Regions from separate parts of the Homo sapiens genome. Here region 1 is linked to region 2. Evidence: fine-mapped expression QTL. A gene starts in region 2. The other region holds a variant in brackets. All regions are shown on one strand. Distances are between the middles of the regions. Region 1 holds the start of CCL19 (C-C motif chemokine ligand 19). Region 2 holds the start of ARID3C (AT-rich interaction domain 3C).

Region 1 (5,370 bases), 62 kb before region 2:
ATGTATATACATACTTTTCATCAGATTTCAGATGTTTTGTCATTATTTCTTCAATTTTTTTAATGCCCTGTTCTCTCTATTCTCCTCCTGAGACTCCTGTGATGAGGTATATTTGATGGTATCCCTGAGGCTCGTTTGGATCTCAAACTTTAGCACATATCAGAGTCACTTGGAGGGTATGTGAAAATGCAGTTTGCTGGACCCCATCCTCAGAGTCTCAGATGTGGTAAGTGGGAAGTAAAATCTAAGAATTCGTGTTTCTAACAAGCTCCCAAGTGATGCTGCTGCTGCTGCCCAAAGGCTACTCTTTGAGAACAACTGCCACAGGGGAAATTATTCACTGCCAGAACTGCAGCAAGATGAAGGATTTGGGGAATTAATACCCCTCTCTCCTTCCACCACTGATCAGTTGCTGCTTCCCATGGGCCAGCCCCAAACAGAAGCCAGAAAGCAGGTGACCCTAAGTAATGCTATCTGCAGAGGTCAGCCTTCCAGGGAGCAGAGCAGGGCCGTGAAGAGTGGAGAATGGATAGGCTGGGGCAAACAGAATAACCAGAACCATCATGGACAGAAGAATGGATAGATCAATGGAAAGAGGGGTGGATGGATGAATTAATGAACAGATACCTGAATAAAAGGATAGAAGGCCAGGCACGGTGGCTCACGCCTGTAATCCCAACACTTTGGGAAGCGGAGGCAAGCAGATCATTTGAAGTCAGGAGTTCGAAACCAGGAGTTCGAAACCAGCCTAGCCAACAAGGTGAAACCTCACCTCTACTAAAAATACCAAATTTAGCCGGGCATGATGGTGGGTGCCTGTAATCCCAGCTACTCAGGAGGCTGAGGCAGGAGAATCCCTTGAGCCCAGGAGGTGGAGGTTGCTCTGAGCCAAGATCGTGCCATTGTACTCCAGCCTGGGTGACAGAGTGAGACTCTGTCTCAAAAAAAAAAAAAAAAAAAGGACAAAAGAAGAACAATGGCTAACAGAGCTTATTGTGCGTCAGCCTCTAAGCTAAGGGCTTTACTCAGGGTTCCTCACTTAATCCTAAGAAGTAGATCTTCTACCATTCCCATTTTACAAATAAGGACACTAAGACACAGAAACTGGAGAATTTTCACCTTGTCGCAGTTAGTAAGTGGTGGAATCTGAATCCCAAGCTAGGCGCTCTGTCTGCAGAGTCTCCCTCCTCTGCACCGTGACTACCCGTGCTGTGCCATGACCAAGTGGCAGACAGGCGGTGTGGAGTGGAGGTAAAGACTGCAAACCCTAGAGCACACCTGGGTCCAAATCATGCTCCAGTACTTACTAGCTGTGTGGCTTTGTGCTCTGAGCCTCATGTTCCTTATGTGTAAAATAAGAATAATAATGTGAAAATAAGAAAAACTACATCAATGGTATTGTTTTGGGAAAGTTAAGCAAGGTAATAGTGGTAAAGTCCTTGACATAGAGCCTAGCACATAGTAAACAATCAAAAATACCATTACTATTATTATGATTAATGAATGGAAAGAAGCTAAGTCAGAAATTTAAGAGGGAAATGTTCCCCCTCCCTCTCTCCATCCAAAAGAGGGTCTAGGGTTTGGGTGACGACGGGTGACTGGGCGTTTCACATTTAGTTTCTCTTTCAAGGCCTTCTCTTCTGACCTTTCTCATAAGGATGGGAAGTCACTTGTCCCCTCCCCCATCGGCCGATTCCTTGAAATTTTAAGATTTGTCTGAATATGAGCTGGCCAGCCCCTCTCCTTAGAAATCCCCTCTTGGTTCCCAGGACTGAGAAAAGGGGGAAAATGAAGGGGGCTATTCCAAGCCAGTCTCCCTCCAGCTGTTCCTTTGACCCAGGTGTTGGACATAGGAAAACAGTAAATAGAGGAAGGGGAGGGTTTGCTGAGCCCCAGAGGCCTGAGATGTGGGATGGGGGTCCTGGGCCTCCTCCCAAGGTACCTGGCCTTTCAGCTCTGCTTGCCCCAAGGGAAGGACTGGTTCCCACATAGTGGGCAGGCACAGTGATGACCTTGGAGGCCACCCCAGGATCTCATGGTTGTCCTGAGGGTGCCAGGGAGCCTTCTTCACCACCAGCCCAAGAAAGAAGCACCAGTGAGGACAAGGGATAAACCTAAGGAAGGGAGCACAGTTCCTCACTGTGGGCCCCACCTTTGACCATCACTTCTGAACCCCAGCTTCATGGTTGATGATGCAAATGCCATCAATGGGATGACAGGGCAATCCCTCTCTCTGGAGAAACAGTGCACAGCCCCCTTTACTGGGCCAGACTGCAGACTTAAGTTCTCAGAGCAGGAGCCAAGGAAAGCAGAAGGAAAGGGCAACCGCAGGGGGAAGAAGGGGGGCAGGGTGCGATTCTGCCAGAAAGAGGGGGGCAACAGGGGAATCACAGAATGGGACATGAAGGGGAATTTCAGGCAGAGAAAGTGAAGCTCTGGCCATAAATAGGAGTCAGCTGCAGGGCTCACATTCCCAGCCTCACATCACTCACACCTTGCATTTCACCCCTGCATCCCAGTCGCCCTGCAGCCTCACACAGATCCTGCACACACCCAGACAGCTGGCGCTCACACATTCACCGTTGGCCTGCCTCTGTTCACCCTCCATGGCCCTGCTACTGGCCCTCAGCCTGCTGGTTCTCTGGACTTCCCCAGGTAAGGCTGAAGGGAGAGTCAGGGTCAGAGGCAGTGGGGGGCTGGCAGTGGGTAATGTCTAGATCTCAGATTGCTTGGCACTGGACGTAAGGGACATGGTGAGTTCAGGCAAATGCTTAGGTCTGTATATTTCGGTGAGCCTGGCAGGTCCCTGCATGTGTGCCTGTAAGTGTGGGTGTCCCTGTGCCCCTGAATCCCAATGCGGGTGTGTCTTTTAGCACATCCTGGGGCCTATGGCTGTGACTGTCTCTGCAAGCTCTATTTCCTGCTGCCTCC[G/A]TTTCCCAGGCAGAAGGAGATTTGCTTAAGGTAGGGAGAATGGCAGACACTAAGCCAAGGCTGATATTCAAAAATTTTAGCAATTAATAAGGCTCCTAACACCAGCCTACCCTACCCCACGCCCCTCCCACACTGTGACCTGCATTAACTCTTTACTTGCTGGATTGTCCTGGGAGAGAGGTTGGGGTGATCAGGGCAGCAGGAAGTCATTTGTGGGGCTCAGGGCAGTGGTTATTTACAAAACAGTTTAGAAGTATGACAATATATTTAGCAACCAGTAGAGCCAGAGCCATATTGGTGCATAATGGCTGAATACCAGGTCTAACTCCTCCCCGACCCCACCAGACACACACACACACACACACACACACACACACACACACACACACAGGTGTCCTCAATCCGAGCTAGGGCCATGGCCATGCCACCCTCAAGGGTCCCTGTGTCCTGTCACCTTCTTTCCCCATCCCAGCCCCAACTCTGAGTGGCACCAATGATGCTGAAGACTGCTGCCTGTCTGTGACCCAGAAACCCATCCCTGGGTACATCGTGAGGAACTTCCACTACCTTCTCATCAAGGATGGCTGCAGGGTGCCTGCTGTAGTGTGAGTTGTGGGGAGGGTGTCTAGCCTCATCTCCCGTTTTAGCCCCTGTTGAGACTCCCACCTTCTTATTCCCCTTCTCCATGCCAAGCCCAACCCCTTCAAGGAAATCCCTGAAACAGGTTCCCAGACATGGTCCCCAGGCATGCTGGATTCTGGGGCTCCATTCTCTCCGGCCTCTCACCCCAGGTTCACCACACTGAGGGGCCGCCAGCTCTGTGCACCCCCAGACCAGCCCTGGGTAGAACGCATCATCCAGAGACTGCAGAGGACCTCAGCCAAGGCAAGCCTGGCCCTCCCTGGCCCTGTCTCCTCCCTCTGAGCTCCTGTCTAAGATTCCAGCCCATGATCCTTCCTCTCCTTCCTCCTCTAGATGAAGCGCCGCAGCAGTTAACCTATGACCGTGCAGAGGGAGCCCGGAGTCCGAGTCAAGCATTGTGAATTATTACCTAACCTGGGGAACCGAGGACCAGAAGGAAGGACCAGGCTTCCAGCTCCTCTGCACCAGACCTGACCAGCCAGGACAGGGCCTGGGGTGTGTGTGAGTGTGAGTGTGAGCGAGAGGGTGAGTGTGGTCAGAGTAAAGCTGCTCCACCCCCAGATTGCAATGCTACCAATAAAGCCGCCTGGTGTTTACAACTAATTGATCACAACCTGTTACAGATTTCTTTGTTCTTTCTCCACTCCTACTGCTTAACTAGCCTTAAAAAAAAAAAAAAAGGCACCTGGCACCCATAGATCTGTCTGCTGTCCGTTTGCTGTCTAGCCAGGTGGACAGGAATAGGAAGGGGGAGGTGGAATGGCAGGATCTATTTTCTCTTCTGTGGCCTAGGGGGTCTCCTTGCTCACCTCCACTTAACAACCTGATGCTCTCAGGATCAGCCTCATTGCTTTCCATAGTTCAGCGACACTAAGCTTGGGTCAGTTCCCTGAATGAGCCAGCGTCTCATGCCTCCCACTCTTTGCTCTCCAAGGCAGGTGTTCAAGCATCCAGGTGTCTAAGGAATCCAGTGTCACTGGGGGGAAGGGAGTTGTGGGGAACCAGCTCTCACGGCTGGGGGAGGTGGAGTGGGGCAAAGGGCCCAGCTCTACTGCCTGGGGGAAAATACCCATCCACCCATGCCCTTCCCTTGGTCTGGCACACTCTTCTCTCTCCTCTGCCCACCTGGCTTCCCATCTGGGTCCAGACGCCTCTTCCTCCAGGAAGCCTTCCCTGACCCCAGGCTGGGTTAGGTAGCCTCCTGCAGTGGCCCCTCACAGCATTCATCACCCTGACTTATAGTTGCTGGTTTGTCCAAATTTGTCCATGTTCTTGGACTGGGATCACATCTATTTTGGGTTCCACTGTTTTTGTGGTGTCCAGCATGCTGCTTGGCACAAGGCAGTCCCTCAATAAATATTTGTTTAGAGAATGAATAAATATGTGAGGAAAGGCTCAGCAGCCAGGGCTGAGGGTCCATCTGTTCATTCTGTCCATACAGAATCTGACCTCCAGGCCAGCCTTCCTCTCTCAGCCAAACTGAGCAAGGTCCAGCCCCATCTTTGCAATCCTGGGGCCATGCCTCTCAGGGACACCGACAGACAGACCTGGGAGTCAGAGGTCAGAGACAGGAGAGAGGCCCACGGGGTGGAAGAAGGAGTAGCCAGGGAAGCACAGGAGATTCCACATAGAGGAGCCCTACCACCACCCCTACAGTCTACATGGGCTCCAGGGCTCAAAGGCAACACTGAGACCAGAGACATCTCCCCAGATGAGACCAGAAAGGAATCTCAGCTCTGGGAGATGAGAGCCGTGTGACTCTTGGAGCATCCCACAGGGCTTCTCTGTACAGAGTGA
Region 2 (5,370 bases):
ATGCTCTGTCCTTCAAGAGGTGAAGCCTAAATTCCTTCCCCTTGAGTGGACTAGACTTAATTATGTACTTTCACAAATAATGTGGCATAAATAACAGTGTGTGACTTCTAGGACTAGGCCATAAAAAGCATTGCTGTCTAAAGAGTCTCTCTTGGATCATTCTGGGGGAAACCAACTGCCATGTTGAGAGGACATACAAGCAATCCTATGGAGAGGCCCATATTGCGGGGGGAACAGGCCCCCTGCCAAGGGCCATGCAAGTGAGCCATTTTGGAAGTAGATCCTCCAGTTCCAGTCAAGCCTTCAGATGACTGCATCCCTGGCCAACCTTTTTACTACAACACCTTAGAGGACAATGAGTCAGAACCATCCAGACCCACAGAATTGTGAGAAAATAAATGTTTTTGTTTTAAGCTGCTAAATTATGGGGTGATTTGTTACACAGCAATAGGTAACTAATGCCCCCTTTTATGTTCCCCCCAACCCAGCTACATTTTTCTCCATGGTACTTACCACTATCTGACACACTGTATATTTCCCCCACTTAGAATTGTACCATTATAATAAGGACTTTGTCTTATTTGCTCCTGTGTCCAACAGTGCCTGGCAAAAAAAATAGATAATAAATATGTGTTGGATGAATGAAGCATGGGTCTCTGAAGGTCTAGGTCTGTCTCCGTCTCTGTGAGGTATAAGACCAGACTGCGGGTATGAGAGGCAGCCTTTCCTTTTCACAGATGAAGAGAGATAAACCAAGTCCCAGTCAAGCATATTCCTTCCCCTCAGCCCTTCCCAGTTGTAGCCCTCCTGGCCCAGACCCCAAAAGTGGATTAACTTTGCTTGATTGATTTGGGAGCTGGGGGAGTGACTGCCCAGCCCCTTACCATTCAACCCAAACCCTACAAAGCGATCTCCAAACACTCAGAACTGGAATTTCCCCAAGCCAATTCCTACCTTTCTAGGAAGACTCTGGCCACCTACCTTTGTCCATGGACCTCCTCTGAGCAGCCAGGGGAAGCTGTGGTGGGGAAAAGGGAGCAAGCAGGGCACAAGGGTTCTGTGGATTGCTACCCTCTGCTCTCCAGTCTTCCAGTAGACTTCCAGGGCATGTCTGTCTGCCTGGCACATTCACTGATTCTCCCCTCCCAGCATCAGGGAGGGTTGGGCAGAGGAGGAGGCTTGGCTCTGCCCCAGGATACTCACACCAAACAAAGCCATGGGGGAGGAGGCATCAGTACCGACAGTGATTGGATCACTGGAGCTTCTGGAGGCTGGGGGGTTCTGATGGGCTCAGAGGTCTGAAATCTGAGGTGGAGGACACTGGGGCAGCCAAAGGAATGAATGGGGTGAGCCTCAGCGTGGCCAGGAATGGGCCATAGAGAACCAGGACTTAGTGCTGCAGTAGAAGCTGGGCACAGAAGGGTGCAGAGAAGGGTGGCGGCTGGAGGCAGGGAGAGCAGGGAGGAGGCACCCACCATGGTCAGACCCACCATGGTCAGAAGAGCCGGTGGTTTGAGCCAGAGCAAGCTGAGGCTGAGAGGAGTGGACTGATTGGGAGAGGACAAGGGAGGAGGGAGGAGACAAAGGTCGTGTTTGGATTCCTGCCTTCTGGGGGTGTGAGGTCAGAAGACAGTCTCTGGTGCCACAGTTTCATACCTATGCCAAGTGTCACCCCTACAGACACCTGCTGTTCACTTACACACTTGGCATCACCTCACAGTGTCCCTCTGTTTGGTAAGTGGTCCCCTTGGGCACAGGAAGAAATAGGAAGTATGAGGATTCCCGGGAGGAGTGGGGTCCAGGCTGTTCAGAGCAGAAATTCTGAGAGGCCTGCCACTCAGAACCCCCAAATAAGGAACAGCATTTCAGCGTCTTGGGAATAGTTAGGGGGAGGGCGCAAAGCAGTGGGCTGAGGGGGTCTGGAGATACAGATGTGGCAGTCAGGCACACATAGGTGGAGAATGTGTGTGAACATGGGCGAAGTGCCGGTCACTGTTGAAACAAACCTATGATGAGTACCAGAGGTTCATTATACTATTCACTTGTCTATGTTTCAAAATTTTCATAATACAGGCTGGGTACGGTAGCTCATGCCTGTAATCCCAGCACTGTGGGTGGCCAGGGTGGGTGGATCACTTGAGGTCAGGAGTTCGAGACCAGCCTAGCCAAAATGGTGAAACCCCATCTCTACTAAAAAGACAAAAATTAGCCGGGTCTGGTGGTGGACGCCTGTAATCCCAGCTAATTCCAGCTATTCGGGAGGCTGAGGCAGTAGAATCACTTGAACCTGGGAGGCGGAGGCTGCAGTGAGCCCAGATCGCGCCACTGCACTCCAGCCTGGGTGACAGAGACTCTGTCTCCAAAAAAGAAAAAAAAGAAAAGAAAGAAAAAGAAAAGAAAAGAAAATTTCCATAATAGAATGTCAAAAGAGACAAAAACTGTGTGTGGCTGTGTATCTGCATGCGGTGAGTGTGCAGTCAGCTTAAAGACCTCTGAGAGTGTGTGAGTGCATAGGTGTGGGTCCACCACCATGTGCACTCATGTGTGCAAACCGCAGCATGCCCGCAGTGGGGGACAGCACGTAGGCAGGGCAGGGGTGCTCAAGGCAAAGGGAGAAGCTTCTATTCTGACCAGACCCTCCACGCACACCCCAGCATCTTGCAGAGGGATTCCCCTCTTGATCACAGCGTGCCCAGGCCATTGGCACTGTGGTGACCATGTCACGGAACGTGTGAGACTGGGAAGCTATGCGCCTGAACTTGTGACAAGGTGTGTTGGTGTGTGGATGCGGCTATTTGTATGTGGAAGCCCAGTGCCGAGTGTGGGTGTCGGGGGCACGACTTGTGAGGCTGGGCGGGGCTCTGGTCCGGAGTCCGGTGGCGGTAGAGCCCTCATTTTCGCACGATTCCCCCGCAGCTTTCCAGCGCCCCCTGCCCCCGAAGCTGGCTGGAAAGAAGGTGGGAGACACCTGTTGGGGAGCTGAGAGCGGCAGATCCCACAGGGGCCTCTCCCCATGCGCCCCGCCCGCCCTGCCCCGCTCGGGTCCCGCCCCCGCGGCCGCCGCAAGCAGCGCGGCGAGTGAGCGCACAGCCGCCAGAGGAGCACAGGGCGGCGGGAGCGCACCGCCGGGACCCAGCCGAGGCCAGGGCCGCCTGGGAGGCGGGCGGAGCAAAGGCAGCGCCGTGGAGACGCCAGGGGCAGCGGGCCACGCCAGGCAGGTGAGTGCGGCCGCGGGGCGCCCGGAGCGAGGGAGCCGGGCGTCGCGACTCTGCCGCCTCCTGCCCGTCCGGTCCCGTGCCCGTCCCAGGCTCTGCCCCACCGCCCTCCATCCCCGCGACTCCTTGGTCCCTGTCCTCTGCCCCTCTCTCCGGCTGTTTTTCCCGTCCCTGTCTCTGTCGGTCCCTCTCTATTTAACTGTCTCTTTCTAATCTCTCTCTTCTGTCCGTTTCCTGCTGTCTTGGTCTTTCCCTATATCTCAACCCCTGTCTATTTGTCTATCTCCGCCTCTGTCTCTCCGTCTCTGTCCGTCTCTGAGCTACCTGTCACTTAGGTCTTTTATCTGTTGCTCCTCTACCTCTCTTACCCTCCCTGTCTCTCTACCCAATATTCTATCTCTCTCCATCTCTGTCTGTCTACCCTGTCTCTGCCTGATACCTCTGCCTCTCTCCATCTTGGTCCCTCTCAGTCTCTGTGTCACCCCACTTCTGTCTCTCCTTGTCACCCTGTTCCATCTCTATTTTCACATCTCCCTGTCATTGTCTCTGTCGGACATCCCCCTTCTCCTTTTCTTTCTCTCTCCCTTCCTTCACCATTTCCCGATGTCTCTTGGTCCCCGTCACCCTCTCTGATCTGCTCACTCTTCCAGTCCTCAGTCAATGGCCATTTGATTCCCCGGGTCTGGTCCTGTTTCTGTTCACCTCTGGGAAAGCCATCTTTCTGCCTCTTTCCTTGTGACCCCTGCACTTCCCTGAATCCATGACCACCTCCCCCTGTGTTGGGGGGCTCTGGGGGCAGTAGGGCCCAGCACCCATAATTCCCTCCCCCACAGGCGGCCCTTTCCTCGGGGTCCCGCCTGGTACCAGGGACCCCCTCAGCTGGGGGACTGCGCCTGGAAGCTGTCATGGAGGCCCTGCAGAAGCAGCAGGCAGCTCGGCTGGCCCAGGGGGTGGGGCCATTGGCCCCTGCATGCCCGCTGCTGCCACCGCAGCCTCCCCTGCCTGACCACCGGACCCTACAGGCCCCTGAGGGGGCCTTGGGGAATGTTGGGGCTGAGGAAGAGGAAGATGCTGAAGAAGATGAGGAGAAGCGGGAGGAAGCCGGGGCAGAGGAGGAGGCAGCTGAGGAGAGCCGTCCAGGGGCCCAGGGCCCCAGCTCGCCTTCTAGCCAGCCCCCTGGACTCCATCCCCACGAGTGGACCTACGAGGAACAATTCAAGCAGGTAGGACCTATGCCCTCAATGTCCGGCCCTCTTCCCTATCTCTCTCTTCTGGCAAAAGCACAGCCAGGTGATTAGCAGCCCACCCACCCCCACCACCCTCTGCAAGATGAAAAGAGACACAGAGACACGGAGACCTATAGAAAGACAGAGAGAAGATTGGAGGATAGTGACAGGGAGGGAAAGACAGATGCCTGGCTAATTTTTTAAAATTTCTTTTGTAAAGACAAGGTTTTCTTGTATTGCCCAGGCCGGTCTCGAACTCTTGACTTCAGGTAATCCTCCCACCTCAGCTTCCCAAAGTGCTGAGATTACAGGGATGAGCCACCATGCCCAGCCAGGTGTAGGGAAGGCAGTCTAGGGGCTGGGGATTCCAATGCCAGCACCACCCTGCCTACCTTCTCACACATCAAGTCACAAGGTCATATTCCAGTGACCAGTGGGGGTGACCCAGTTGCTTCCTCTGTCTTTGGAAGCAGAATGGAGGTTATCACTCACTTGGCAGGCTGATACACCTTTCCTTTCTTTCCTGTCACCTCCTCCCTAACCCTGGCCCCATGCAAATCTCCCTGGCCTGAGTTCCACGGATGATAGTTCCCAGCCTGGGATGGCCACTACAGCCGCAGTATGACTAAAGGGCTCCTCCGCAACTCAGAATGACAAGACTTCATTCACAGGGCCTTAATCTGAGGTTCTTTCTCCCTGGAGAACCCTTCTGGGTGTTATTCTAAGGACACTACTCAAGGCTGTCACTATGAAGGTGTTACACAGGGCTGTGTCTCCAGGTGTGCTATTCTGGTACTTGTAGGGTGTTGGTCTGGGTATATTCCAAAAGTGTTGATCTGTGACTAGTACTCTGGCATTAGTATAAAACTGAGTGTTACTCAGGGCTCTGTTCTGGATATGTGGTCTAGAGACTGTTTCTCCTAGGTATA

Evidence for each region. PIP is the estimated chance that this variant, and not a neighbour inherited with it, causes the effect. A credible set is the group of variants that fine-mapping cannot tell apart.
Region 1: its variant is the best candidate, but not a certain one, in a credible set for the expression of ARID3C in cerebellar hemisphere (GTEx, PIP 0.70).

Annotation. Positions count from the first base shown.
Region 1 is chr9:34,688,376-34,693,745 of GRCh38, reverse strand. CCL19 (C-C motif chemokine ligand 19) reads left to right here and starts at 2,470. Exons shown (of 4, transcript NM_006274.3): 1 at 2,470-2,655; 2 at 3,404-3,536; 3 at 3,723-3,816; 4 at 3,907-4,176. The coding sequence starts at 2,607. The coding sequence ends at 3,927. It also overlaps a transcript of PHF24 not described here. The variant G/A (reference allele first, on the strand shown) is at 2,932.
Region 2 is chr9:34,626,765-34,632,134 of GRCh38, reverse strand. It overlaps ARID3C (AT-rich interaction domain 3C), which reads left to right and starts at 3,069. Exons shown (of 8, transcript NM_001017363.4): 1 at 3,069-3,218; 2 at 4,049-4,438. The coding sequence starts at 4,121. RefSeq lists silencers at 2,951-3,110, 3,161-3,260.